Linked DNA regions of Homo sapiens: region 1 is linked to region 2. Evidence: fine-mapped expression QTL. A gene starts in region 2. The other region holds a variant in brackets. All regions are shown on one strand. Distances are from middle to middle.

What was found. PIP is the estimated chance that this variant, and not a neighbour inherited with it, causes the effect.
Region 1: its variant is fine-mapped to the expression of GABPB1-IT1 in visceral fat (GTEx, PIP 0.96).

Annotation. Positions count from the first base shown.
Region 1 is chr15:50,281,531-50,293,389 of GRCh38, forward strand. GABPB1 (GA binding protein transcription factor subunit beta 1) reads right to left here. Exons shown (of 9, transcript NM_016654.5): 7 at 7,953-8,138; 8 at 4,538-4,653. Among named protein-coding and RNA genes, the nearest start is that of HDC, 22 kb to the left of the region's middle. The variant T/C (reference allele first, on the strand shown) is at 4,067.
Region 2 is chr15:50,347,578-50,364,225 of GRCh38, forward strand. It overlaps GABPB1-IT1 (GABPB1 intronic transcript), which reads right to left and starts at 7,302. Exons shown (of 1, transcript NR_026891.1): 1 at 1,359-7,302. GABPB1 (GA binding protein transcription factor subunit beta 1) reads right to left here and starts at 7,621. Exons shown (of 9, transcript NM_016654.5): 1 at 7,408-7,621. GABPB1-AS1 (GABPB1 antisense RNA 1) reads left to right here and starts at 6,597. Exons shown (of 1, transcript NR_024490.1): 1 at 6,597-10,735. MIR4712 (microRNA 4712) reads left to right here and starts at 12,752; the gene lies at 12,752-12,833. RefSeq lists enhancers at 6,605-6,664, 7,403-8,026, 8,095-8,174 and silencers at 6,795-7,004, 7,015-7,264, 7,845-7,894.

The DNA.
Region 1 (11,859 bases), 68 kb before region 2:
GAAACTGGGCAGGATATGTGAGCTATTTGCTTGTGTGTAAACATCAATTTTCTAACTGCCCTGAGCCAAATATGACAAGTATGATTTTGTTTTTATAAATAAAGTTTTATTGAAATACAGCCACACCCACCCATTTTCAAATTGTCTATGGCTGCTTTCACTACAATGGCAGAATTGAGTAGTTGACAGACTGTAGGGCCCACAAAGCCAAAAATATTTGGTACCTGGCCATTTATGAAAAAAAACTTTGCCTTCTCCAGCCTTAGAAAAAAGAGATATAGACTGGGTGCTGGGCATGCAGTGGCTCATGCCTGTAATCCTAGTATTTTGGAAGGCCAAGGCAGGTGGATTGCTTGAGCCTAGGAGTGAGAGACTAGCCTGGGCAACAGGGCAAAACCTCATCTCAAAATCCTGACCTCAAGTGATCCTCCCACTTCAGTCTCCCAAAGTGCTGGGATTACAGGCATGAATTACCATGCCCAGCCACAAAACCTTATCTCTACAAAAAAATACAAAAATTGGCTGGGCATGGTGGTGTAGCCTGTAGTCCCAGCTACTCAAGAGGCTGTGAGGTGGGAGGATTGCTTGAGCCCAGGGAGGTCAAGGCTGCAGTGAACTGTGATTGCACCACTGCACTCCAGCCTAGGCAACACAGTGAGACCCTGTCTCAAAAAATAAATAAATAAATACAAACATACATACATACATAAAAACACTAATTTAAAAAAAGAGAGAGAAGAGATATGACCTGGATATGGTGACTTATGCCAGTAATCTCAACTCTTCAGGAGGCTGAGGTGGGAGGATCACTTGAGGCCAGGAGTCCAAGACCAGCCTGGGCAACATAGCAAGACACCCTCTCTATGAAAATAAAAATAAAAATAAACTTAGCCGGGTATAGCGGTCCCAGCTGCTTGGGAGGCTGAGGTGGGAAGCTTGCTTGAGCCCAGGAGTTTGAGGTTGCAGTGAGCCATGATTGCACCACTGCACTTCTGCCTGGGTGACAAAGTGAGACCCTGCCTTAAAAAAGAAAAAAAAAAAAAAACAGAGACGGATGTGACTATAAACATTTTTAAATTGTGGCAGATCAGGAAAGATAGCCATAAAAAAAAAAGATTGAAAAGCTTTGCATCAAATAAAACATTTTATAAAGTTTACAGAAATCAGTTTTTAAGAGAGCACTAAGGATCTCAAATCTACCACCAGTTAAGGACACAAATATTTCATAAAAATAAAATTTACAGCCGTGCGCAGTGGCTCATGCCTATAATCCCAGCACTCTGGGGGGCTGAAGCGGATGGATCACCTGAGGTCAGGAGTTCGAGATCAGCCTGGCCAACCCGGTAAAACCCCGTCTCTACCAAAAATACAAGAATTACCCAGGCATGGTGATGCATGCCTGTAATCCCAGCTACTTAGGAGACTGAGGCAGGAGAATCACTTGAACCTAGGAGGCGGAGGTTGCAGTGAGCTGAGATCGCAGCACTGCATTCCAGCCTGAGCAACAGGGACTCTATCTAAAAAAATAAAATAAAATTTACTAATAAACATTTATCTCTAACCTCCATGGCAAAGAAAACATAAAGGTATTTCCTGAAGTCACACAATAAAGTAAGTAATAGAAATCTGTTACTCCTAATACACTAAATACATTTCTTACACATGTACAAAGATTAATTTCAATTCAGAATAGTCTAACGTTTATTTTTGGAAATCTGTAAATAACACTCTTCCTCCAAAAATATCTTCAATGCGGTAATAAATGGAAGATAAAATTATATACATTATTGCAATTTGGTATTTTATTCATACCTTTCCCTCCAAAAAAAAAAACCTATTTTATTTCCTATATTGCCATATGCAGATGTAAAGCCCCACAAAATTTACAATACACTTTCTACAATTTAAAGTAATTTTTCCAGAGACTCTTGGCAAACCTCTCCATTGTTAGTTGGGAAACTGTAAACATAAATTTTTAGCACCTTATTGTTTTTTTTTTTTCTTTTGTCTCACTCTGTCACCCAGGCTGGAGTGCAATGGCATAATCTCGGCTCACTGCAACCTCCATCTCCCGGGTTCAAGCAACTCTCCTGCCTCAACCTCCTGAGTAGCTGTGACTACAGGTGCGTGCCACCACACCCAGCTAATTTTTGTATTTTTTAGTAGAGATGGGGTTTTGCCATGTTGGCCAGGCTGGTCTCGAACTCCTGACCTCAGGTGATCCACCCACCTTGGCCTCCCAAAGTGCTGGGATTACAGGTGTAGGCCACCGCACCCAGCCAACTCTTAGCACTTTCTTTATGGACAGTCACTCTGGTCATTGCAGTCACAGATACATGGAGAAAACTCAAACATTAGATTTTGTATAGAGTTAATTTTTAAATTTCTTTAAGTTTCTCAATCTCAGCATCACTGATATTTTTGGGCCACACAGTTCTTTATTGTGGGAGGCTGTCTTGTGCATCGTAGGATGTCTACCCAGCCTCTACCCATTACATGTCAGTGGAATGCCACTAGTCATGACAACCAAATATATCTCCTGACGCTGCTTTAGAGAAACTTTGAAAGTTAATGGCCAAGCTGTCCCTTAGGAGTATAAAAGTCTCCCCCCAAGATAACCCCATTGGCCACCTAAGAAAATAAATGCAAAATAACGACTTCATGTATTATAAGGAAATTATTACCTGGTTTGGTGAAAACATTGGAGGTCATCTCTTCATTCTATATCTCCAGCCTACCACTACCTGTATACTCACTGTATGCTTCCAGGTTTCTCTGAAATAGCCCTAAGAGGTCATGCAACCTTGGCTTGAACATTTCTAGTGATGGAGAATAAGATTTCCATTACCAGAAAGCTCTAATTACTAAAATCAAAACAAAGCAAGCAAACAAAAATCACTGTTCTTCATACCAAGCTAAAACTGAATCTCCCTAAAGCTCCATCTCCTTGGCCCTAGTTACTTTATATACCTCTCAATTCATACTTCCCTGTTATTTGCAATTATTTTCCCTGGTCTCTCAAAAGACTGTAAGAAAGAAATCAGGCTGAACTTTGAGGGAAACAGCAATGCTTACTGGTCATTAGGTAAATAAAGGTATAGGCTGCACATTCACTGTTTAAAAATATAATCTGTTGAATTAAATAAGCTTACATTTAATAAAAATTCAAGTAATTTTAAAATAATACTTTATTAGATAGTTAAAGCGAAGTACATGACAATTTTTTTACCTTATGTGTCTGAAAAAGATCATCTGACATATCAGAAAAACAACAAAAATTATTAAATAATAAGTATACTGATACTATTCAATGGAAAAATTGTTAGTTTGTGAATAAGAACTTCAACATCCTACACATCACTTTAAATCTTGAAGAAATAAAACAACCCAACATCAATATTTAAAGTCATAATTTTACCAAATATTCCGGTTTAACCAATAACCAGATTTTTTAAACTCAATAATATATTTGTGGTGTGGTGAAAGATGTACCAGTCTTATATTTACATGAATTTAGGAAGGGTATTTTCTCATTGTCTTTAGTTTGACTTATGTTGTCTTTTAGTGACTTATTTTAAAAATCTCCTTTCTATAACAAGAACCTTTACAAAAAATTACTAAATATTCACCAAGTTTACTACAAACACGTATCAGATATAAATATTGTATGACTATGCTGACTTTTTCAATTCTCACAAAAACCCGAAAATGGAGACATTATTATTATTCTAAATTCCAGTTTGGGACACAATAAAACTGAAACTCAGAAAGATAAGATTCCTTGCCTCAATGCTAACAGAGCAAGAGGTGGGATTCCAACTCAGTTCATTTGATTTCAAGTTCAGTGGCTGCAGTTGTTCTTTCAAAGTTATTCAAGTATAACTTTGTTTTCATTTGATATAACTTATTATCAAGTTCATGGAACAAAATTTATTTACAGTCAGTCAAGAAAAAAACCTGTGAAGCAACTATGGTTTTGTTACACCTACAAACTGGTTTACGCTTACAAATTACTTTGGGAGAGGGGAAAAAATGATGAATCCTATGAACAGCTAGTCTAAATTCA[T/C]TTACTTGCCTTGAAATAAGCAATTATCTACTGCTTTTAAAAAATAACCCATTTGACAAACATCAACCTCCTTTAAGAGGACCCCTAGCCCAATTAGGCATTTGAGTTTCAGTTTTGAACAACAAAAAAAAAATTTTAGCCAATATATACTGGTATTTTCCTTTAGTGACGTGTAAGAATGGTGTGTGTAAGTTTAAAACATAAAGGATGAAGTGGAAGAACCAAAGACATTCCAGTGTTATCAAGATGACAGACTGTTATAAACAAATTCTTCACTCACTCATTCATTCATTCAATATTTATTTATTGAGGGCTTGCTATATGTATAAGGCAAAAATAAACAAAATGAAAATACTACGCACTTTCATTCTGTATCAAAACAATACTGTCAGTAATAAATATAAAAGACAAAAAAAATTGAATTTATTTTGGATGACTGCGGCAAAGCACACCGGGTAAAAGACTCCTTACTTCTATTTCTGCAGATTCCACCCGGTTTTCAATTATTTCGATACATTGTCTCTTAGCTGGTGGTTCTTCACTTATAACAGTTTCTTCAGCAATGTCTGTTGCTGGTACTGTTAATACTAAAATGAAAAAAAAATTATGTATTACTTCATTTTCAGAGAGATTTATTAGAAATAAAACTAGTCTTGACATTGTTGATGCTACTCATCTAAAATAACTACATTCCAAAACAATAATTCCAAATCATTGATTTGCTTTTTATGAGACTATCCATATTTGTCTTTTTTATTACCTTCTTGCTTTTTTACTGAAATCTACTTATTAAAGTACCTACAAATATTTTTTTAATTATATAGATAATATATTCATTCATGACTCAAAACATCAAAATATTTAACGAGCATATTTTGAGAGGCCTCATGCCCACCCCTGCTAACAGATGATCATTTTATTAATTTATTATGTATTATCCTTATATTAATTTGTTTAAAAATTAGTATACATTCTCATTTTCCTTTCTTACATAAAAGGTAGCATCTATACAATAGATATATTGTTCTGCATCTGCTTTTTTCACTCCAAATACTTATAATATCTTACATCACTACATAGAGAGCTTCTGTTTATTTAGCTGCATAATATCCACTAAGTGCATATTCCATTATGAGCACTGATAGTTCATAAACATTGCTTGTTTTTGTATTGTACTGTTGGGCTTTTTCTCAATTTTTAGTAGCTCTTTATATAAATGCAATTATATAGAGAGGCTGTCCTTGCTTTGCACAGCACTACAGGAACATAAAAATGACTGTGCAAGCTGAAACCATGCGAAGCCATTTTAATAATCACAATGGGGAAAATTATAATTGTTCCACGGCCTTTAAAATTTTTTGCCAAAACATGAAAAACTCTCTTAGTGACAGTTATAAATGTAAATAAAAATTTAAAAATAGTAAAACTAATATTTATTTAGTACAATGTAATTTAAAACATTAGAAATATTGAGAATTTGGGTTTTACTTCTTTTTTATTCATGACATAAATTACCTCAGGAAAAAATGAGAATTTAAATCTGTTTATTAGACTGTCTGTAAAGTCTACATAATTCACATGTAAACTATATATTTTTAATTCAGGAAGGCTTTAGAAGTTTTTTTTAAATATTCAGTAGAACTTTCTCATGGTTATTCTTTTCCAGAGTTTTCCTTATTCTTCTTCCCTCTGCCCCATCAACATAAACTTTAGAAGCCATTTGGCTAATTACAGAAAAAAACTTGGTATTTGTTATGGGCTGAATGGCACTCCCACTCCCCAAATTCACATGTTGAAGTCCTAACCCCCAGTACCTCAAAGTGTGACTCTATTTGGAGATAGGGTCCTTAAACAGATAATTAAGGTAAAATGAGATAGGCCCTAATCCAGTACTACTGGTGTCCTTACAGGAAGAGGAGATTAGGACACAGATAACACAAATACTGAGGTAGACCATGTGAGGACAGGCCACAAGACGGCCATCTGCAAACCAAGGAGAGCAGCCTCAGAAGAAACCAAACCTGCCCAACACCTTGATCTCGCACTTTTAGCCTTCAGAGCTGTGAGAAATCATTAGTCTGTATAATGATACGGGTTTTGGAAACAATGTTATGTCTGCTTGATACAAATATTTTTAAAGTTTTCTTCTTTTCTGAAAATTAGAATTAGTTCTTTAATGCTTTGTGAAAGCATCTGACCCTAATCCAAATTTCAGACCAGCTATCAGCAGAAGATTTCAGCAGAGTGGGACAGAATGGCCTCCAGGCTTCAGAGGTCAAGGGTTTCCTCTCCTACTGCTACAGCAACAAACTCCTTTCTTGAAATCTGGTCTCTGTTCAATGCCATGCCTCCTCTGTCACTCAAAACCAAACCTGGTTTAGGCGAAGTTCTACCTCAAGCCCTGCCCTTCACTGGCCATGAAAGGCACACGCTCTACAATCCTACTCATTTTCTTTCTTTCTTTATTTTTATGGAGACAGGGTCTCGCTCTGTCATCCACACTGGAGTGCAATGGTGCAATCATAGTTCACTGCAGCCTCAAACTCCTGGGTCCAAGCGATCTTCCTGCCTCAGCCTTCCAAGTAGCTGGGACTACAGGCTCACACTATCATACCTGGCTAATTTCGTCATTTTTATTTTTGTAGAGATGAGTATCATTGTGTTGCTAAGACTGGTCTTGAACTCCTGGCCTCAAGCAATCATCCCACCTTAGCATTCCAAAGTGCTGGGATTATGGGCATGAGCCACCATACTACTAGCCCTAGTCATTTTCTCAAAGATTATGTGTGGACACTTCTTTTAGGGGGAGACAAGGTACAGGGCAATGCTTACTTAGGCACTTTCTACAGCTTCTCTCTGCCTCAGTATTCATGCCCTATTCTATCTCAGTCCTGCATGCAGCACTTCCTACTGAGTCTGGGGCCCTATCCTTCTGAGAGAGCATGTTTATTGCTGAGCTTAACCCCTTTTCTTTCCTTGATGCACCAGTGTGGATTTCTATGAGAGTCCTCTTGCCCTGGCTGTAATGGCTTCAGATGCTTTTGGCGGCACTTAAAAATGTGGAATTCTGAGGTTTTTCTCAGCCTTTTAGTTTCACTGAAAATGTAGCTGAGACTTTTGTTTCATCTTGTTAGCCTTTGTGGTTTCCAAAAGGAGAAAAATGTTAGAATTCACAATAAAGCTGCTAAAATGTGCTACCATATTCCTACTACAAGTCCTAAGTCCACCTTTTTTTTTTTCTTTTTCTGAGAAAGAGTTTCTCTCTGTTGCCCAGGCTGGAATGCAGTGGCATGATAATGGCTCACTGCAGCTTCAACCTCCTGGGCTCTAGCAATTCTCCCACTCCAGGCTCCCAAGTAGCTGCGACTATCAGCAAATGTCACCATGCCTAGCTAATTTTGAATATTTTTTTTAGACATGGGGTCTCACTATGTTGCCCAGGCTCCAACTTCTTTTTAAGTAGCTTTTTCTTATATGGTATTTTTAAAAGCTCACATGGTAATTGAATTGCATTAAATGATCTAGGAAACTACTGTCCAATGCTGATTTGAATTATTTATTTTGGATATTATTTGTGTTGACATTTAAGCTCATTTTTCAACCAGAATACTTTGGGGCCAATTTCTCTTTCCACCAGTATATACTCAGAGAAAGCAAGCTAATTTGAATTTTAATTAGCCTAAGCAAATAAAATTAGGTAATTAAGTCTATTGCAAAGGGTTATACAAATATAACTCAAGGCAAAAATACATTCTTTGGAACACATACCACAATTTCCTGAGAATTAAAAATAAACACAATCTTTTTGGACTGCAGGGAAGACTTAAAGAAAATAAAAATTAAAAAAAAAAAACATACAAACTTTATATAAATGTCTACTACTAACCTTGTTGTCCATCTGGCATGGTCACAATGATGGGCTGACCAATTCCACTGGTTGGAATAGAGTGCAAATTTCCAAGCTGAATTCCATCTGTAACTATTGTGATGACTTGCTGACCCCCTGAACTAACTACTTGCTGAATGGCACCATCCACAGATTCTGCAGTAACTACTTCTTCTGTGGCCACTACTGGAAAAAAAAAAAAGAAAACTCAGCAAACATATGTAACGGTATGAATAGAAACCTATTTTTGCTTTGTCTGCTACTTTTGCTTTCTATGCTTCTTTCTTTTCTTTTTTCTTTTTTAAATAGAGATAGGGTCTCACTCTGATGCCCAGGCTGGAGGGTAGTGGCACAATCATGGCTCACTGCATCCTTAACTCCTGCACTCACGTAATCCTCTTGAATCAGCCTCCCAAGTAGCTGAGACTGCAGGTATGTACCACCATACCTGACTAGTTTTATTTTTTTTAGGGATGGGGTCTTGCTATGTTGGCCAGGCTGGTCTCAAACTCCTGGCCTCAAGCAAGCCTCCTGCCTTGACCTCCCAAAGTGCTGAGAATTACAAACATGAGCCACCACACCTGGTCCCCTGCTTCTTTCTTACCCAGGAAAACTTGTACATGGTTTTAAAACTCAGTCGCCAGAGGTGTTGGAGATATCTATGTAACCAGTTGATTACAAGTCTCTCATAATTTACAATACATCAGTTCCAACTATCTTTACATGTGAGTGGTTAAACAATTTCTCATTTGGTTGTATGAGGTACAAAATTTAGATCTAATATCATGACAAAGGTTATATCTGTTTCGTAAAACCTCACAATTCAGTCGGGTGCTGGTGGCTCAGGTCTGTAATCCCAGCACTTTGAGAGGCTGAGGCGGGAGGATCACTTGAGGTCAGGAGTTCGGGACTAGCCTGGCCAACATGGCAAAACCCTGTCTCTACTAAAAATACAAAAATTAGCTGGGACTGGTGGTGCATGCCTATAACCCCAGCTACTCAGGAGGCTGAGGCAGGAGAATTATTTGAACCCAGGAGGCAGAGGTTGCAATGAGAAGAGATCATGCCACTGCCCTCTACACTGGGCAACAAAACAAGACCCTGTCTCAAAAAAAAAAAAAAATCCACAATTCATAAGATGAATTTGAATATGATTATACTCCATTTACATTTATGTGTGAGTTGACATACAGAATAAAGAGTATTCTCTTTTTGGATTAAGTGAGCAAGGATTTGCCTTGATAATAAGTGGCATACAGATGTGGTACTATGTGATAGTAAATAGTGTATGTTAACATTTCCACAAATAAAATCCCCAAATATGCTCTTAATAATTTATGAAAGCCTTAGAGAGGATTCTGGCAGCTCAAGCAGCACCTGTGGCCTTGTCTGGGTAGAGAAATCACAAGTTAATACTGCCAAAATCCTTTCTCACAGGCAATCCTACACCCAACTACTGATCCCAAAAGACATGTAGAAGAATATACATGGTAGCTTTATTCATACTAGTAAAAAACTACAAACAACGCAGATATTCTTTGATAATAAATTAACAATGGTAGAGTCAAACACAGCAATTTGACTATATGCAAAACATGGATGAACCTGACAAAAAACAAAACTGAGTGATGTAAACCAGACACAAAAGAATATGTACTGTCTACCTTCCATTTATGAACTGAGCAATGTTTACACAATGTTTACAATTATCCTATGTAAACCCTTTGTGATAATTCCTCAAACTGTACACTTATAATCTATAAACATTTCTGTACATTAAACCTCACTTCAATAAGAAAGCATCAAAAGGAATGATAGTAATGGATTACTATCCATTGAATTTTTTTTTTTTTTGAGACGAAATCTCACTCTGTCACCCAGGTTGGAGAGCAGTGGCGTGATCTCAGCTCACTGCAACATCCGCCTCCCGAGTTCAAGCGATTCTTCTGCCTCAGCCTCCCAAGTAACTGGGAATACAGGTGTGTGCCACCACGCCTGGTAATTTTTTTTTTTTTTTTGTATTTTTAGTAGAGACGGGTTACACCATATTGGCCAGGCTGGTCTTGAACTCCTGACCTTGTGATCCGCCTGCCTTGGCCTCCCAAAGTGCTAGGATTACAGGCGTAAGCCACCACGCCCAGCCTGAATTTTAAAAAATCTTTCTATCTGGCTCATGCCTATAATACCAGCACTCCAGGAGGCCGAGGCAGGATGATCACTTGAGCCCAGGAGTTCAAGACCAGCCTGGGTAACACAGTGAAAAACTGTCTACAAAAAATTTAAAAATTAGCCAGGTTTGGTGTTTTACACCTGTAGTCTCAGCTACTTGGGAGGCTAGGGTGGGAAGATCCCTTGAGCCTGGGAGGTTGAGGCTGCAGTGAGCAGTGATCACATCACTGCACTCCAGCCTGGGTGACAGAGTGAGACTCTGTCTCAAAAAAAAAAAAAAAAAATTCTATCTATAATAATACCTCATAAAAAGGAGAGAAAGGAGGAAATGGGAAAGATATTCCTGATAGAAAGACATCTAGTTAACATTTAAAAAATGACAAGTTAAGATAAATCATTGCGGCCGGGCGCGGTGGCTCATGCCTGTAATCCCAGCACTTTGGGAGGCCAAGGCGGGCGGGTCAGGAGATCGAGACCACATTGAAACCCCGTCTCTACTGAAAATACAAAAAATTAGCCGGGCGCGGTGGTGGGCGCCTCTAGTCCCAGCTACTCGGGAGGCTGAGGCAGGAGAACGGTGTGAACCCGGGAGGCGGAGCTTGCAAGTGAGCTGAGATCACGCCATTGCACTCCAGCCTGGGCGACAGAGTGAGACTCCATCTCAAAAAAAAAAAAAAAAAAAAAAAGATAAATCATTGTAACTTCTAATGTAATAATTCATTCAAGCAAGGATCGGTAGTGGGTGCTAAAAGCATTGATAAAATCTTTTGGGGAAACAGGATATTCAAATGTTCTCAAAGTATCCCACCAAAGATTACTATTAGTTGCAAAGGGGAAAATCTACCTGAAAAGACCCGGCAGTCATCATTCTACCAAGTGGTCATTATCAGGATGGGCTGATATTATGAGCCTCCTTACGTGATACACTGGGAGGTTACAAAAATTCACTGGTGTTCTTCCTGGAAATGTCTGAACTAAATCTGACTATACACGACATTTGGAGGACAACTTGAAAATGGACCATATGTCAGATAATTTTTTTTAATTAATGTTGATGTTTTTAGAAAATAAAATGGAGCTGTGGATATGTAGAAGGCCATCCTTATTCTTGAGAGATACATGCCAAAGTAAAGGTGAAGTATCATGATGTCTCCAGCCTACTTTCATATAACTTAGCAAAATAAAAGTGTGTATATGTGTGTGTGTGTGTGTGTGTGTACATGCACACATGTGTCAGAGAACATATGGGCATGCCAAGATGTTAACAGCTGGTGAATACAGGTGAAAGTTATACAGGTTCATCCTCCAATTTTTCTGTGGGTTTGAAAACTGTCTACATATAAAAAAAAAATTATAACTAGTTCAAAAAGAGGAATGACATTAAAAATTATTTCTAAATGGCATGGTTTTTAATGTATTTACACATTACAAAAGTGCAATTACAAAAAGTGTAATTTTACAAAAAGTGTAATTAAATAAAACCACTCTCTACTAAAATCAAGCTACCATCCATATACACAGTTGCTCTGAAATATGCTGAGTTTCTATCAACTCACAGTATGGCATCATGGATATCAGTGATCACAGGATTTACTAAGACAGAAAGGCCATAAATATAGGAACTGCTTTTTTTTTAAGGCAGGAAAAATACTAGGAAACTAGTTTTCAAGATGTACTCAACAGGCCTGGCTTCAACTCTGTTACTGTGTTACTTAGTAATCAAGGATCACAATACAAA
Region 2 (16,648 bases):
TGGAAATAAAGGATTCCAGGAGTCAGAAGGGGCTATACATCCAAAACCGTTATCATAATGAGAAGAATTGACCTAATTCCAAAGTTCAGTACTGTAATTTTACAACCACCTCAGTCTCTACATGCACAGAATGGGTGCATTAAAGACAGGTATCACAGTGTCATCTACCCACCTCCTTTAAAGAATCACTACTATAGGCTGGGCGCAGTGGCTTATACCTGTAATCTCAGCACTTTGGGAGGCCAAGGTGGGCAGATCACTTGAAGTCAGAAGTTGGAGACCAGCCTAGCCAACATGGCTAAACCCCGTCTCTACTAAAAATACAAAAATTAGCTGGGCATGGTGGCGGGCACCTGTAACTGCAGCTACTTGGGAGAATCACTTGAACCCGGGAGGCAGAGGTTACAGTGAGCCTAGATCACACCACTGCACTCCAGCCTGGGTGACAGAGTGAAACTCCATCTGGAAAAAAAAAAAAAGAATCACTACTATAGTAAACCACCATAGTAAAAGTATCTTATCCCTCAAGTGTAATGAGACATAAACAAGCTAATTGGGTTATAGGAATGCTCAAGCCTCTTTCAGAAAAAGATTCTACATTATGTAATATAATCACAGCATTAGTGGGTTTAAGATATTCTTTAAAATAGAATCACAGTCAGGACCAACAGGAGTAGTTTTTTAAATTTTTTTTGGAGACAGAATCTTGCTCTGTCACCCAGGCTGCAGTACAGTGGCACAATCTCCGCTCACTACAACCTCCGCCTCCCAGACTAAAGGAATACTCCCACCTCGGCCTCCCGAGTAGCCGAGACACAAGCACACACCACGTCTGGCTAATTTTTGTATTTTTAGTAGGGACGGCGTTTCACCATGTTGGCCAGGCTGGTCTCGAATTCTTGACCTCAAGTGATCCGCCCGCCTCGGCCTCCCAAAGTGCTGGGATTACAGGCATGAGACACTGAGCCCGGCCATTTTTTTTTTTTTAAACTTTGAAACTTTTTGGCTGGGCACAGTGGCTCACACCTGTAATTGCTGCACTTTGGGAGGCCGAGGCAGGCAGATCACAAGGTCAAGAGATCAAGACCATCCTGACCAACATGGTGAAACCACGTTTCTACTAAAAATGCAAAAATTAGCTGGGCGTCGTGGCGCGCACCTGTAGTCCCAGCTACTCGGGAGGCTGAGGCAGAAGAATCGCTTGAACCCAGGAGGCGCAGATTGCACTGAGCTAAGATCGTGCCACTGCATTCCAGCTTGGCGACAGAGTGAGACTCCATCTCAAAAAAAAAATTTTTTTTAAATCATAGTATCAGTATGCTGAGTATTTTTTAAATCAAAGGAGATGGAGGTGGACATTTTCCATTATTTCATTTTAATTGACTTTAATTTACCATGCACTATAAAACTATAAAATACCATGAAAAGATGTTTTAATATTATAAAATAGGACTCAAAATTAATATTTTATAGGTTCCTTATCTTCAATTCCAAAAATCCAAAAAACTTCTGAAACCCAAAATAACTCATCTTGTGGTAAACCTTACCCAAACTGATATGAAGCTATTTACAGTCTTTATCCTATTTAGTGCGAACATTCATACATTTTGTTGCAGAAACAGTAACACTTTTGAAGGGGGATATTGCACTGGACTCTATTGGAAGGCTACACATTACTACCTTGCCCATATAAAAAAAAAATTCCTAATTCCATAACCTATTAGACCCTAAGAGTTTGAATGGTGGACTGTGATCCTATAATTGCTAACATTTATTGAGCTATTAACTGTTATGTTTCAGGTACTGTTCTGTTCACTTTATATGAAATAACATTTAATCTTTCCAATCATCATGAGCTAAGTATTATAATAATCCACATTTTACAAAGAAGGAAACTGAGCCACGGAGAGATTAAGTAAACTGCCTAAAATCACACAGCTAGAGTATGACTAACTGGGATGACACTGGGATGAATATTTAAAATATTACACATAAGAGTAACAACACACAACAAAATAATTGATTATGGTAGGGTGGTAGGAGTGATATGTTTCTCTACTCAATTGATATTACTTCTAGAATAAGGAATCAAACAAAAAATTACAAAACACTACATGCATTTACAAATTCTCATGTACAATTTCTACAAACTTGCTTAAAATGCAGAGTATAAAACCCAAATTTCTCAGCTTATGCTAACACATTTAATTTTTTATTGAAAAGTTACATCTTAATATCTTAATTACAACATGATAGATAATTTATATTCATTGTAGAAGTTAGAAAATTTGGATAAGCAAAAAGAAAACAATCACCTGTAAAACTACACTCAGAAATAACCATTTAACAATTTGGCACATATCCTTCCAGACATAATATATTTTTGGGTTTTTTTACCAAAATGGAATCATGTTTTTAAATTTATTTTTTCTCACTTACATATACCAAGACATCCTTTCATGTCTTTATATTATTCTATCATCATTTTCATGGCTGAGAAGGCAGTACCCCACTGTAGGGATGGACCCTAACAATCACTGTGAAACATTTAGGTTGTTTACAATTTTACCATATAATGATCAATAGTACTGGCTCTAGAGTCACACTGGTTGGATTCAAGTCCTGGCCCTAACACTTAACTAACTCAGGTACCTTGAGCAAGCAACCTCATTTCTCTATGCCTGTTTTTTCTTCTGAAAAGCAGAAATAGTACTACCCACTTCATATGATTACCGTGGGGCTTAAAGGCATTAATACACAGCTTTTATAATCAACAATACTGCATCTAGTATGCTCACAATTAAATATTCACACACATCTTTACTACATCAAAAAAAAAATTCTTTAAAGGGAATTTCCATGTCAGAAGGTATGCCAATTTTTAAAGCTGCTGAATCTACCAAATTACAGTGTGGTTTAAAGCCCTTCATTAAATAGCCTTCTCACTTAATACTCATTTCTCTTTATCCAGGAAGGCAAAAACTATTATCAAGTTAACCAGTTTGTTTCACTCAATTAGCTTTTTGTTCTTCCACCTGTAAACCTCGGCATATTTAATAAAACCTCAAAGTTTATAGGTAACTTGAAGACACCTAGCTCAAATTCTCCTTCAGTACGATTCCTCTACTCTAGAATCCCCAATTTGTCAGTGAACAGGAACAGCCTACCACCCAAAACAACTCATTCTATTTTCACAATTTTGAGGAAATTTATCTTGAAAGAGAATTGAAATCTGCTTCTTTTAAACTTCCACCCACTGACCCTAGTTCCTTCTGGTCAAGTCAAATCTGATCCTTCTGCATGACAGAACTCCAAATCCTTAAAAGTGGCTGTTACTTCTTAAAAGAAGCTCCTCTTCTTTAGGTCAAACATCCCATTTTTTCAACTTTTTCTCATTTCCATTTCTCTCATGATCAAGGTCCTCGTTTATGCTCTACAGATAAGTGATTTTGACACTTAGGTGTCTACCACCTTGGAAATGAGAAAAATTAAGGTCCGTTCCTACCCTACTTAAGTTTGGGCCTCTGTGTGGCTTTTTATTAGCTCTCCAGATGATTCTGATAAAGTCTGAGAATGAATACAAGGTCTCACTTATGATAGTATGCTACCCAAAAAGCCAACACAATACCCCAAATATAATATAACTAGTACACAGTAAAGTGGGGCTAACACCTTGCTCTGTCAATAAGCTGTTCTACCAACTTCAGAATTATTCACAGATGGGTGTGTTGGCTGACGCCTATAATCCCAACACTTGGGAGGCCAAGGTGGGAGGATCACTTGAGTCCAGAAGTTTGAGACCAGCCTGGGCAACACAGTGAGATCTCGTCTCTACAAAAAATTAAAAAATTAGCCAGACATGTTGGCAGGTACCTGTAGTCCCAACTACTCAGGAGGCTGAGGCAGAGGCAGGATCGCTCGAGCCTGAAAGGTGGAGCTTGCAGTGAAGTATAATCGCACCACTGCACTAAGCCTGGGTAACAGAGAAAGCAAGACCCTGTCAAAGAAAGAAGAGGTGCAAAGGGGAAAACAGGGAGGGAAGGAGAGAGAGGGAGAGGGACAGAGGGAGAAGGAGAGAGGAAAGAGGGAGGGAGGGAGGGAGGGAGGGAGGGAGACAGAAAGGTGCACTAGCCCACCAACTGAACTGACAGCTGATTGCACCAAAGCATCTTCTTTGTATAGAGCACTGTGATGTCAACACTGAGAAAAAACACAGGCCCTAATACTGATCTCATCTAGTGCTAGATTTACCTTCTAGAAAGCATGATGGAACAAACATCTTCAGAAAACTATAATACTAATTGTAGCTATCCCAATGTAGGCACATCAGAGCTATAGAAACATTGTGATTACTAGCTGGAAACCATACTAGTTGTTGGGGAGGAGAGGGGAGCAGAGGGATGACACTAAGGAAACTAAGTTGCTCTCAACTTCAAGATTTTGTGTGGGTTTGTTTTTCAACGTTTGCAAAGTCAGAAGAGATGGAGGCCATCAGTGAGTTCATCTGAACTCAGGCTACTTGCAAACAGAGACTGGGTAACTGCCTCGTGCACCCTCAAAAATAAATTCATGATGCAAAACTTCATGTAATTTCTGAATTTCTGAATTCCTCATGACGTGCACTTTACCTGTTACCTGTTAATATTTCTGGTACTGAGGGGCAAAAGAAAAAAGTAAAAAAAAATTCATGGTACAGGAGATGTGGTCCATTACAATGACACAATGTTATGGGAAAAAACACACTAAAACCAAGCATACTTTTTTTTTTTTTTTTGAGACAGAGTTTCGCTCCTGTTGCCCAAGCTGGAATGCAATGGCGCTATCTTGGCTTATTGCAACCTTTGCCTCTCTGGCTCAAGCGATTCTCCTGCCTCAGCCTCCCGAGTAGCTGGGATTACAAGCGCGCACCACCACGCCCAGCTAATTTTTTGTATTTTTAGTAGAAATGGGGTTTCACCGCGTTAGCCAGGCTGGTCTCAAACTCTTGACCTCAGGTGATCGGCCCGCCTCCACCTCCCCAAGTGCTGGGACTGCAGGCGTGAGCCACTGTGCCTGGCCAAACCAAGTGAACTTAACCAAGATCCAATCTATTTTCGTTTGAACAGCAAACATTAAAAGTACACCTGGTATTTTCTAACAATTACACGAAGAATGACCAGATGCTTCCTGTTGATGGAACAGTAGAGAACTATAGACTGACAGATTCAGACTACAGTTCACAGAAACAACTGGAAACAAACTTAGCTTCCTTTCAAAGCCATTAAAATACGGCCTTAAATTTTTATGCATTAATCAATTAAGTATAATTGTCTCCCAATAAGTATAATTGTCTCCCAACCTAGAAAACCCAGAATGATTCAGAGAGACAAAGAACTCTAAGGATATGTCTCTGCAAACTGTTCGTTTCACCAAAGGATTCACTGCAGAATTAATTTTCTGTAAAATCTGTACCTCCTATAATTTTCAACATGTTCTATCTTTAAAGATAACATTTACACAAGTGTTGATAGCATATGTGGAATTCACGTGTTACTTGTGTAAATCATTATAAATATGTAATAGAATTAAATGTTTTAATCACTTAAGAATATCTTCGAATGTTCCTGAGTCTCCGAGATCATAGGCAGATTATGCAGTCTTCATCTGTGATTTTGTTTAGTCACCTAAATTCCAACTTTTAAAAAAGTTAGAGCCCAGTAAAAAAAGTATGGGAATCAATCTTATTCAGTCTTGTTAAAATGTGTCTTGCATAACAGCTTGATTTGACTTGTATGGTGAAAGCACGGTAAGAATGACACATTTCTGTTTTTTGGTTTTTTTTTTAAAAAAGTATGAGTGTACAGTGGAGTGTTCCAGAGGTTACATGGTGTGCTAACCACAACAGTCTGACGTAGATCTGAGAATCTTCTATTAAACCAGGCATTAAAAAGATTTGCAAAAATGCAAGATGTCACTCTTATCATCTATGTTAACATGTAATGGATTTATTTTTTGTTTTTGGAAAAAAAAAACCAAGAGAAAAGAAAATAAAGTCATCTTTAGTTTCCTTAAATTCAAAGTCTGAGCCTGAAAATGGAAGTATCAAAGCTGATGGTTATACGTCAGTGAGAAAAAAATTTAAACCAAGCTGGGTGGGTCTTTACATGAGATAAACTATCTACAGGAAAGAATGACCACTAACTTCTGCATAATAAATGAGAGTGGATCTTTTAATTCTGAGATGGCAATGTACTTTACAAGGACCATTTACAGACTACATCAAACCTTTTTCTAGATAAAAAACGTACTTCAGTAACTTGCCTGAATTGAGAGAGCAAAACAGTCCGGAGAGAAAACTTAAAATGTTTCCACATTATCAAGCCCCCTTCAGAAGTACTGTGGTCTCGGCCCCTCCTTTGAACAGATGTCCGCTCGCCACAGTCCAATCAGGTTTAAAGCAAGAGTATTTGTACTGAAAACAAGCTTAAAGTGGGAAGACACACACAAAGCAGGCCTGTATCATTCCTTTGGTTTCAGTTTTCACGATGCACCCTTGAGGCTAGGCACGCTGATTCAACACACTTGGAGAGCTTCACCGAAACACACTAAACACACAGTGATGAACTGTGCCCTGGCAGAGATGACCTGGCAAAATTCTCAACTTCTTCCCTGAGGCAGTGCACCCGCAGTTCTCGGCGGCGAAGTCTTTGGGGCAGAAGTCCCGAGCCTTCAGAACGGCAGGCTTCTCCCCCTCAGGACTCCAGTCCCCGCGGCCAAGGCTGTCGCTGCGGGGGCCCCGCGCGGGACTGGCCAGGCTCTTCCATTAACCCTGTCTGGTCCGGCCGATCCCGCCGCGACCCGAGCGCCTCTCGGCCCCGCAGCACAGGGCGCCCAGGACCCGCCACCCTCGCCGCCCGTTCCCCTCTCCGGAGAGCCCGGCGGGGCCGTCAGGCTGCCGAGACAAAGGGTACCGCGGCGCCAGAGGCCGAGGCCCAGCCGCGCCTGCCTTCCTCTTTCTCCCGCCCACTGCCAACCTCCAGTCGCCCGCAGAACCTCCGCTGCCTCGGCGCGACCCCATCGCCACCCCGGGGCTGCCGCTCGGGACCGGCAAGCCGGGTAGCCGCGAGGCGGCCGCGGCATGCTAGGGCCGAGGAGGGGGCGGCGGCCGCCACCATGTCTGCCCGCCCCTCCCAGAAGCAGTGTGCCCAGCGGACAAAGCGCAGCGGCGGCGCGGGCGCCCAGGCCGACCCCGCCGACCCCCGCGGAATAAGCGGGGCCAGGAGCCCCGGAAACCCGGCGCCTTAATGCAATAAACAGGAAATCGCGGGGATGATCTGGGTTCCGGGGGAAGTGGAATTATTTTTTACCAGCGAAGAGATCAACTTCCACATCCGGTGGTAACAGGGCCCTACACAGACCCGCACTGACCTGGAAAAGCTTCGGGAGCGGCGACGGGAAGGCAGCAGGAGGTGGTGCGGGGACCCGAGGCGCCTCGTACCCGGCCGGGCTGACGCGGCCCCGCTACACACAAAGCGCTTCAGCTGCACAGGGCGCTATTTTCCGAAAATGCCGCGTCTGGTCGGCGCCCAAAATCCCCACCGAAAAGTCCCCCGTGCTGCGCGCGGAGGGACACATGGTGTGCGAGTGAGTCAAGCTCCCAGCATCCCTCCCGGACCCGGCCCTCTTCAGCTCATCGCCCGAGGATTTTCCGCCTCTGCCCTCGTCGGCAGATCCTGCTCCTACCCACTCCCTAGCTGTGTTCCCGCGGGGAGAGAGGGGAAAGAGGGTCTGATTTTTTAACGAAGGGAAAGAAAATATGCCATTTCTAGCGCTTCAGCCACACAAAGAAAGCGGCGGAATGATCCGCTCTCGGCGACCGCAAGTCCCGGCTCGCCCGGCGCCTGCGCGGCAGCGGGGGTGGGAGCTGCGGACGGCCATGTGCGCGGCGGAGAGGCCGGGTGGCCACCGAACCTTCCCGCCTGTTCTGCGGTGGGTAGGAGTTTGGAAACTAATGTTCCTGTGCTAACCTTCGTGTCTCTGTGACATGACTGTTGAAAGACGGAGAGTGCGGAATCTTTGGAGTTTTAAGCTTGCCAACTGTGCGGCCTAGCAGAATCCTGGGAGACGGAAGGACAGCCAAGAGGCTAGGATTTACCTTTAAGTGTCCCTAGATTCAACTAGGCAGACTGGGACGGGAGACGCTGTGAAGGTACCAGGGAAGGAACGAGTGAGGTTCCTTTTCCACTTTTTCATAAACTCAACAGTCAGGTTCATGACGAAGATATAGATATTTCTGTAGATTTTTTCCCCAACATTCTAATTATGCCTCATGTTTCGTAGATCCTAGTAACTGCTTGGATTACTGCCACCTCAGAGGTAGAGATCTGTTTTTCCGTGGCTGGAATGCCAAAAATTTTGTTGTATTTTATTAAGAAAGTAGCAAAAGTTTGGAGATTTGCAAAGTTAAAAAAAAAAAAAGCATTATGAACTTAATCTAGATGTGATTTGCTAAGGAACTTAATATATTGATATGTTTTTCACAGGGGCGTCTGGGCATGGCTTTCCCAACCTAGTAACTGCAACTTTTAGCATCCTACATGTAGGACTTGGGAATATGTGAGACAGCGCCAAGAATTTAATCCAGGAGAATTGACAAGCTTAAATGAAATCCATATTGCCCACTGATTTTGTGCAGCTTCAGATAAGTAATCTTTCTCCACTTAGCCTTTTGTAACAATTGATGTAATAAAGGTTTGTAGTCTTTGTGTAATTTATTAAAGCATTGTGCCTAAAATAGAAAAAAAGCATAGGAACCATAGGCTGTGTTTTCTTTTGATTTAATATTTTCATTTCTTCAGTTAATAGAAATTTGCCAAATTCTGATGTTTTTCTGTAGCATTATTTGAATGAGCATTGTTTATTTGAGTGAACATTCAGCTAATTGTTACAGAATCGTTGCCCCCATTAATCTTAGGCTGTAGAATGTAGACAAGTAAATAGGCATCATCAGTATGATGAGAGTGAAGCTACTTAATACTGTGGAATCAAATAAAGGAGGAACCCCTTACTAAACCAAGAGGGAGGAATAAAATGGAATGGGACTAGAGAAGCAATTAGCTTTAATAAGGGTATTATGGAAGACTTTCTAGATGAGAAGCAGTAAGTACAGATGTTTGGAGGCAAACACTAGAGAGATTGTTGGGTAAAGAAGACAATGCTGGAGGTCTACTTGTGAAGGCCTTGAATGCTATGTGCAGAAGTCAGCTTCTGAGAACCAGGAAGAAGATATTGAAAGATTTTAAGTAGAAGAATCATAGGATTGAATTCATTTTAGACAGATCACTGTTACACAAAAATTTGAGGCAAACAGAAGAGTTTGGAGTAAACAGTAGGCTGTGAGCCAGTAATGACTTGGACTGAGTTGGTAGCAGGTAGGTGTGAAGAAAATAAAGTGGTTATTGGGAGATTTGGTTAACTGAAAATGACTGAGGGAGATAGATGTCAGGTGACTCCCAAGTGAGTTGGTGGAGCAGCTAGGAGGATAGTAATGTCTTCACTGAGATTAGAAACAAAATAAGAGAATATATGTTAGGGAAGGAAGAAGTCTTTGTTTTGACCATGTAAAATTTGAAGTGCATGTGAGCCAACCAGTCATATATGTGTAGTGTGCAATTAGATATTCATTCAACACTGTTGGAAGAGCACCTACTCTGTGCCTGGTACTGTTCTACACACTGAAATAGGTAAAGCAGCAGCAAAACAAATGGTTCCTACTCCTGTTTTTTAGAGGGAAACAGCATATAAACAAGTTTTAAAAATAAGAGGAGAGAGAATATCCCATAAATTCGTGAAGAAGGCTGGGTGCAGTGGCTCATGCCAGTAATCCCAGCAGTTTGGGAGGCCGAGGTGGGTGGATCTCCTGAGTTCAGGAGTTAAAGAGCAGCCTGGCCAACATGGCAAAACCCCGTCTCTACTGAAAAAAATTAGCTGGGCATGGTGGCACGCTCCTGTAATTCCAGCTACTCCGGAGGCTGAGGCAGGAGAGTAGCTTGAACCCAGGACACGGAGGCTGCAGTGAGCCGAGATTGCGCCACTGCACTCCAGCCTGGGCGACTGAACGAGACTCCGCCTCAAAAAAAAAGAGTTTGTGAGGAAAATTAAAAGCTGATTGGATAAAGTGTTACTCTGGGGAAAAGAGAGCAAACTTTTGGTGGTTGGTTGATCAGAGATGGCCTCACTGAGAAGGTATTAGAAAGGACAAGAACAGTGTGAGACCAAAGGGAATAGCTGGGCAAAGGCCCTAAGGTGAAAAATTTGTTGTGTTTAGGGAATAGCAAGGTCAGTGTATCCGAAATCTAGTGACCAAAAGAAGGAATGATAGGAGGTGAAGTCTTCAGCCTCAATAAGAAGGTGAAGTGCACTGGAAGCCATTGAAGGATTTAAGAAATGGAGTATCTGGCCGGGCGCGGTGGCTCACGCCTGTAATCCCAGCACTTTGGGAGGCCGAGGTGGGAGGATCAAGAGGTCAGGAGATGGAGACCATCCTGGCTAACATGGTGAAACCCCGTCTCTATTCAAAATAAAAAATTTTTTTAAAAATTAGCCAGGCGTGGTGGCGGGCGCCTGTAGTCCCAGCTACTCGGGAGGCTGAGGCAGGATAATGGCGTGAACCCAGGAGGCAGGGCTTGCAGTGAGCCGAGATCGTGCCACTGCACTCCAGCCTGGGCGACAGAGCGAGACTCCGTCTCAAAAAAAAAAAAAAAAAAAAAAGAAATGGAGTATCATGGACTAGGATAGTAGCAGTAGAGATGAGGGAAGTGGATGGATCCAAAAAGCTGACCTATCTTGCTTACCAATTAAATGAGGAAAGGGAGGAATCAATAGTGATGCCTAGGTTTGGGGCATGTTGTCTAGGTGGAATTAATTTTAATTACACTTTTAACCCCTAGCATATCCAAATATTATTTCACATGTGATCAACATAAAAAATTACTAAATATTAAAAATATTTTACATTATCTTTCTCATAACTAAGCATTTGAAATCTGGTGTGTATTTTATACTTATAGCATATCTCAGTACTTGATTTCATAAAATTTCCAGCTGAAAAAATAGATTCACGTACCCAAGTCGTTCCAAGCATACTTAAAAGTTTTACGGTAATCGAATCGTGTATATTTTTAAATTTTATTTTAAATTAAAGTTAGGATTATGAATTCAGTTCCTAAATTAGCCTCATTTCACTTCTGCATTTCAAGTGGGACAAGTTATTACCATATTGGACAATGCAGTCTAGTGAAGTAGAGGATAGTGGAAAGTCAGACTTAAAAAGTTGTTTAGAACCAGCTCTGGAAGGCCTTGGATGTCAGATTAAAGGACTGAGATTTTACCCTTGAGTCAGGCAGAATAATGGATGGTTTTTGAACTAAGGAGTGACACAAGGTTGTGCTTATGACTAGAAGGAGGCCACTAGGTGGCCAGCTGGTGAGTCAGGACACCCTTCAGTTGCTTTGACTTCAGCCCTGTGGATTCAAAGTCTGATTTTTGTCAGCGCTCTAGAGCAGTCTCACCAAAAGTGTGGTCCACAAGGCAGTGCCAGTCTGTAAGCCCTTTGTTACACATCCATGTCAAGGCATTTACAGAAAGTAAGAATTTAGAAACTTATAGCAGTTTAACAGACTAATTTTATTTCTGTGGGTCTAATAAAAATTTGAGGGATTGTACTTTGCATATTCTTTATTTCCCTTTTTTTGTTTGTTTTTTGTGTTCGAGATGGGAGTCTTTTTCTGTCGCCAGGCTGGAGTGCAGTGGTGCAGTCTCGGCTCACTGCAACCTCTGCCTCCTGGGTTCAAGCGATTCTCCTGCCTCAGCCTCCCAAATAGCTGGGATTACAGGTGTGCACCACCACATCCAGCTAATTTTTGTATTTTCAGTAGAGACGGGGTTTCACCATGTTGGCCAGGATGGTCTTCATTGCCTGACCTTGTGATCCGCCTGCCTCAGCCTCCCAAAGTGCTGGGATTACAGGCGTAAGCCACCGTGCCCGGCCCTTTTTTCCTTTTTAGTTTATTTTTTTCTTTTTTGAGACAGAGTTTCGCTCTTATTGCCCAGGCTGGAGTGCAATGGTGCGATCTTGGCTCACCGCAACCTCTGCCTCCTGAGTTGAAGCGATACTCCTACCTCAGCCTCCCAAGTAGCTGGGATTACAAGCATGCACCACCATACCCTGCTAATTTTGTATTTTTAGTAGAGACGGGTTTCTCCATGTTGGTCAGGCTGGTCTCGAACTCCCAACCTCAGGTGATCTACCTGCCTTGGCCTCCCAAAGCGCTGGGATTACAGGTGTGAGCCACTGCACCCGGCCGTTTTTTTCTTTTTCTAATAATTTTTATCATATTACATAAAAGTACCTATGGTCTCACAGATGAAGGGAGTCAGAAGAACCAAACTCCCAGAAGACATATAAATCTAAATGCCTTTTTTACTTTAGAGTGAAAACTGTAATAGCTAAATTATAATGGACATCTGCTCATTTTCTCCCTCCATGTAGACATGGAAAGCTACACGGAAATAACCGAGTTTATAGTAGCTACCATATATTAAACGTTTCCTGTATGCCAGCCACTGTGCAAAGCATATTATATATATTGTCTCATTTAATCCTCACAACTCTGTAAAATAAGTATTGTTTGCCCCATTTTTCCAATGAAGAAACCGAGGCTAAAATAGGTTGAATAACTTACCTAAATTCACCATCCTCAAAGGTGTTAAAGACAGGATTCCAGTACAGGTCTCTCATTTCCTTCATGATTAGGAATACTACTTTGAAATGAGAGACCTGTACTGTATCTGTTAATTCCAAATTCCCTGGCATAAAGACTCAGTACATTGTTTAAAGAGAATGCATGAAGTTAACTGCATTACCTTTTGGAGGGTTCATTTGTGAATTTGGGGCCAAAGTAAGGGGAGTTACTGGTATTCTAATAGCATCAAACAAATGAATTCATTTCATCTTTTGGGGAGGTGGAGGGAATAAGGTCTCACCTTGTCGCCCATGCAGGCTGGAAGGCCGTGATGTGATCTCAGCTCACTGCAGCCTCAACCTGGGCTCAAGCGATCCTCCCACCTCAGCCTCCTGAGTAGCTGGGACTACAGGTGCACACCACCACGCCCAGCTCATTTTTGTATGTTTTGTAGAGACTGTGTTTTGCCACGTTGCCCAGGCTATTCTCAAACTCCTGAGCTCAAGTGATCCTCCCACCTCAGCCTCCCAAAGTGCTGGGATTACAGATGTAATCCACCACACCCAGCCAAATGCATTCATGTCTACAATAGAAATACATCTCTTTGCTGCTATCTTGAATTTGTAGACTCCCACAAATCAATAAAAAAGAAGACATCCAATAAAAAAATGGGTAGAGGCCAGGCAGTGGCTAACACCTGTAATCCAAGCACTTTAGGAGGCCCAGGCAGGCAGATCACTTGAGGTCAGAAGTTCAAGACCAGCCTGGCCAACATGACAAAACCCTGTCTCTACTAAAAATATAAAAATTAGCCAGACGTAGTGGCACGTACCTGTAATCACAACTACTCGGGAGGCTGAGACAGGAGAATTGCTTGAACCCAGGAGGCAGAAGTTGCAGTGAGCCAAGATCGTGCCACTGCACTCCAGCCTGGGCGACAAAGCAAGACTCCATCTCAAAAAAAAAAAAAAAAAAAAAGGTAGAAACTTAAACAGTCACCTCACAAAAAAGGGTATCTAAATATTAGTTTCTTAAAAAATATAAAAGGGGCGTGTAGATGGCCGATAAACATGTAAAAGATACTCAACTAATTTAATCATTAGAGAAATGCAAATTAAAACCTAAATGATATTTTAATCTCACATCCAACAGAATGGCTAAAATGGAAAACCCAGAAAATGCCAGATGTTGGTCAAGAGTTGGAGTAACTGAAACTACACAGCTGCTGGAAATGTATATTGGTATAACCACTTTGGAAAATGGGAAGTTCAACAAACAGGCAAACCAATCTAGATTTAGGGATATATGTTTAGGTAGTAAAAGTATAAAGAAAAGAAATAGTTAGCTTTGCAGGGAGTAGTGCTTGGGAGGTAATAGGTGCTTCTGGAGTGCTGTTGATGTTCTGTTCCTAAGTAGGGTGCTATGGCTTGAGTTTGGTTTGTCTGACCCTACCAAGTCTCATGTTAAAATTTCATCCCCAGTGTTGGAGGTGAGGCCTGGTGGGAAGGGTTGTGGGAGTGGATTTCTCATGAGTGGCTTCGTATTCTGTAAGGAGTGAGTTCATTAAGAGACTGGCACCTCCTCTCTCCTTTCTCTCGCCATGTGATCTCTGCATATGTCATCTCCTGTCTGCCTTCCACCGTGAGCAGCCTGAAGCCCTCACTGGAAGCAGATACTGCTACCATGCTTCTTGTACAGCCTGCAAAACCGTGAGCCAAATAAGCCGAACATTCTAAGACACTGGGATTACATGAGTGTTAGCACTCTATGACTTAATGAGAAGTAGGTTTTTTGGAGAAAAATGTACTTTCAGTATGTATATTATATATTTCATGGTTATTTTTAAAACTCGTGAGCAATGCTGGATACACACTACCAACTATTACTTCCCTGACTGAGCCAATTTTTCTGTAAATGCATCACAAATGTGAAAGATAAGGTAGGCCTGAATTCTGGGGAATGACAATGGTGAAGGAAAGGCGAGACAGGTGCAAAAGACACTGCAGAACTCAGGCTCAAAATCTCATCCTTAACTCCTTCCCTCATCCCACCATGTTGAATCAGATGTCAATAGCAATTTTATATGGCATTTTTTAAGCTTGCAAAAAGTTATAAACAGAAAATGTTCATTTTATCACTCCATCACAGACGAAAAACATGAAATTAAGCTAGGAAACATGTTCAGGTGATTAGAGTAGATAGAACATAGACTAAAAACCAGTGAACTTATAAAAAAAAATCCCATGATGTGGACAAAAAAAAAGAACTTGTGGCTCCTCACTCCAACTCCTGTGACTCTCTCACCTTACCCCCACTGCCTTCAAGTTTTTTGTAGAAAGAGAAATTTTGTATGGATTGAGTTTAAGATGATGCCAGAATATCAAGGTAGAATTATTAAACACACAAAAGCTAAGGTTTGGTACTCTGAAAAAAGGTCAGAATTGGTGATAGAAAATTAGAAGTTACCCATCCATAGAAGGGTAATAAAGCCATGAGAGTGAAGGAAACCAGTGAGAGAGAATATTGAGAAAAGTACTGAAGGACAGAGAAGGAGAAGCGAAGGAGGAAAGCAAATCAGCATTTATTGAGCATCTGTTAAACTGTATGGCAGCTGCTCTACATTTACTATCTCATTTATTCCTTTCCATTTCCAAGGTAGCCAATTTTAGCCTCACTTGATAGACTGGCTTTGTAGACTCAAAAAGCAGTAAAAAGAACCAGCATTCAAAACCAGCTTGACTCCAGTTTATTCTGTGTACTACACCATTCCTGGAGAGGCTAAGTGTGTGTTACAGAAGACCATGGGGAGAATTTAGCTCAAGTAAAGATAAGCCCTGGGAAAAGACCATTGGATTTTTGTGTTTTTTGACTAAGGGGTTCCCATAACATAGCAGCACCTGCACTCCTGTCTTAACGCGTCTGTGAATGTGGGTAATCCAGACAAATGTAAACGCCTGTCAATAAGGGGGGAAAAAGTCAAGATAGTAAATGTAAAAATTAGTATAATGAAAACAAACCAGTTATTAAATTCTATCTAGATACTCTTGCCAACCAAGCACTTCGAATCTCAAGGCTTGAATGAAGAATAGCTTTTTTTTTCTCTGAGACACGGTCTTACTCTGTTGCCCAAGCTGGCGTGCAGTGGCAAGATCTCAGCTCACTGCAGCCTGGATTTCCCATGCTCAGGTGATTCTCCCACCTCAGCCTCCTTAGCAGCTAGAACTACAAGCGCAGCCACCATGCCTGGCTAATTCTGTGTATTTCTGGTAGAGATGGGGTTTTGCCATGTTGCCCAGGCTAGTCTTGAACTCCTGAGCTCAAGCGAGACACCCACCTTGACCTCCCAAAGTGTTGGGATTACAGACATTAGCCACCACGCCTGGCCTGTAAACAGGAATAACTTTCTTGCTGTGTGATTCAATGTTATTTACTGCTTTGTTCATGTACTGCCTATGTTGATTATCACCAGTGGTATGGATCCTGCACATTGGGAAACACTGCAGTGTTATTTAATTTTGTTCACTGTGTTTACAGTGCAGTTTTAGTCACCTGAAATTCTAAGAGAAAAGATCAATATGGTTTTGCCAATCAAAGGTCATTAATACTTGGAATGAAAGATAACTTATCCTGGTGATGAACACATGCCTTTTGAAAAGCATCAGTATCTCCTTAAAATGTATAAACTACTGTAATCAATGAGGAAGACTTTTTCTTATCAGATTTATTAAACTCATTTACCATACAAATAGCATTATAACATTAAAGAAAATTTTTTAAAAATTCTGTACCATAAAACAATTACTGGTTCCTTCCTACCTGTTTTTAGGTTTGCAGATGAATAATGTGTGGATTTTTGGCAGACACACTGCTGAAAATTTTTCACTTTGTTGGGTGAGCATCTCACCCTATCTCCATTTGTCTCCCTG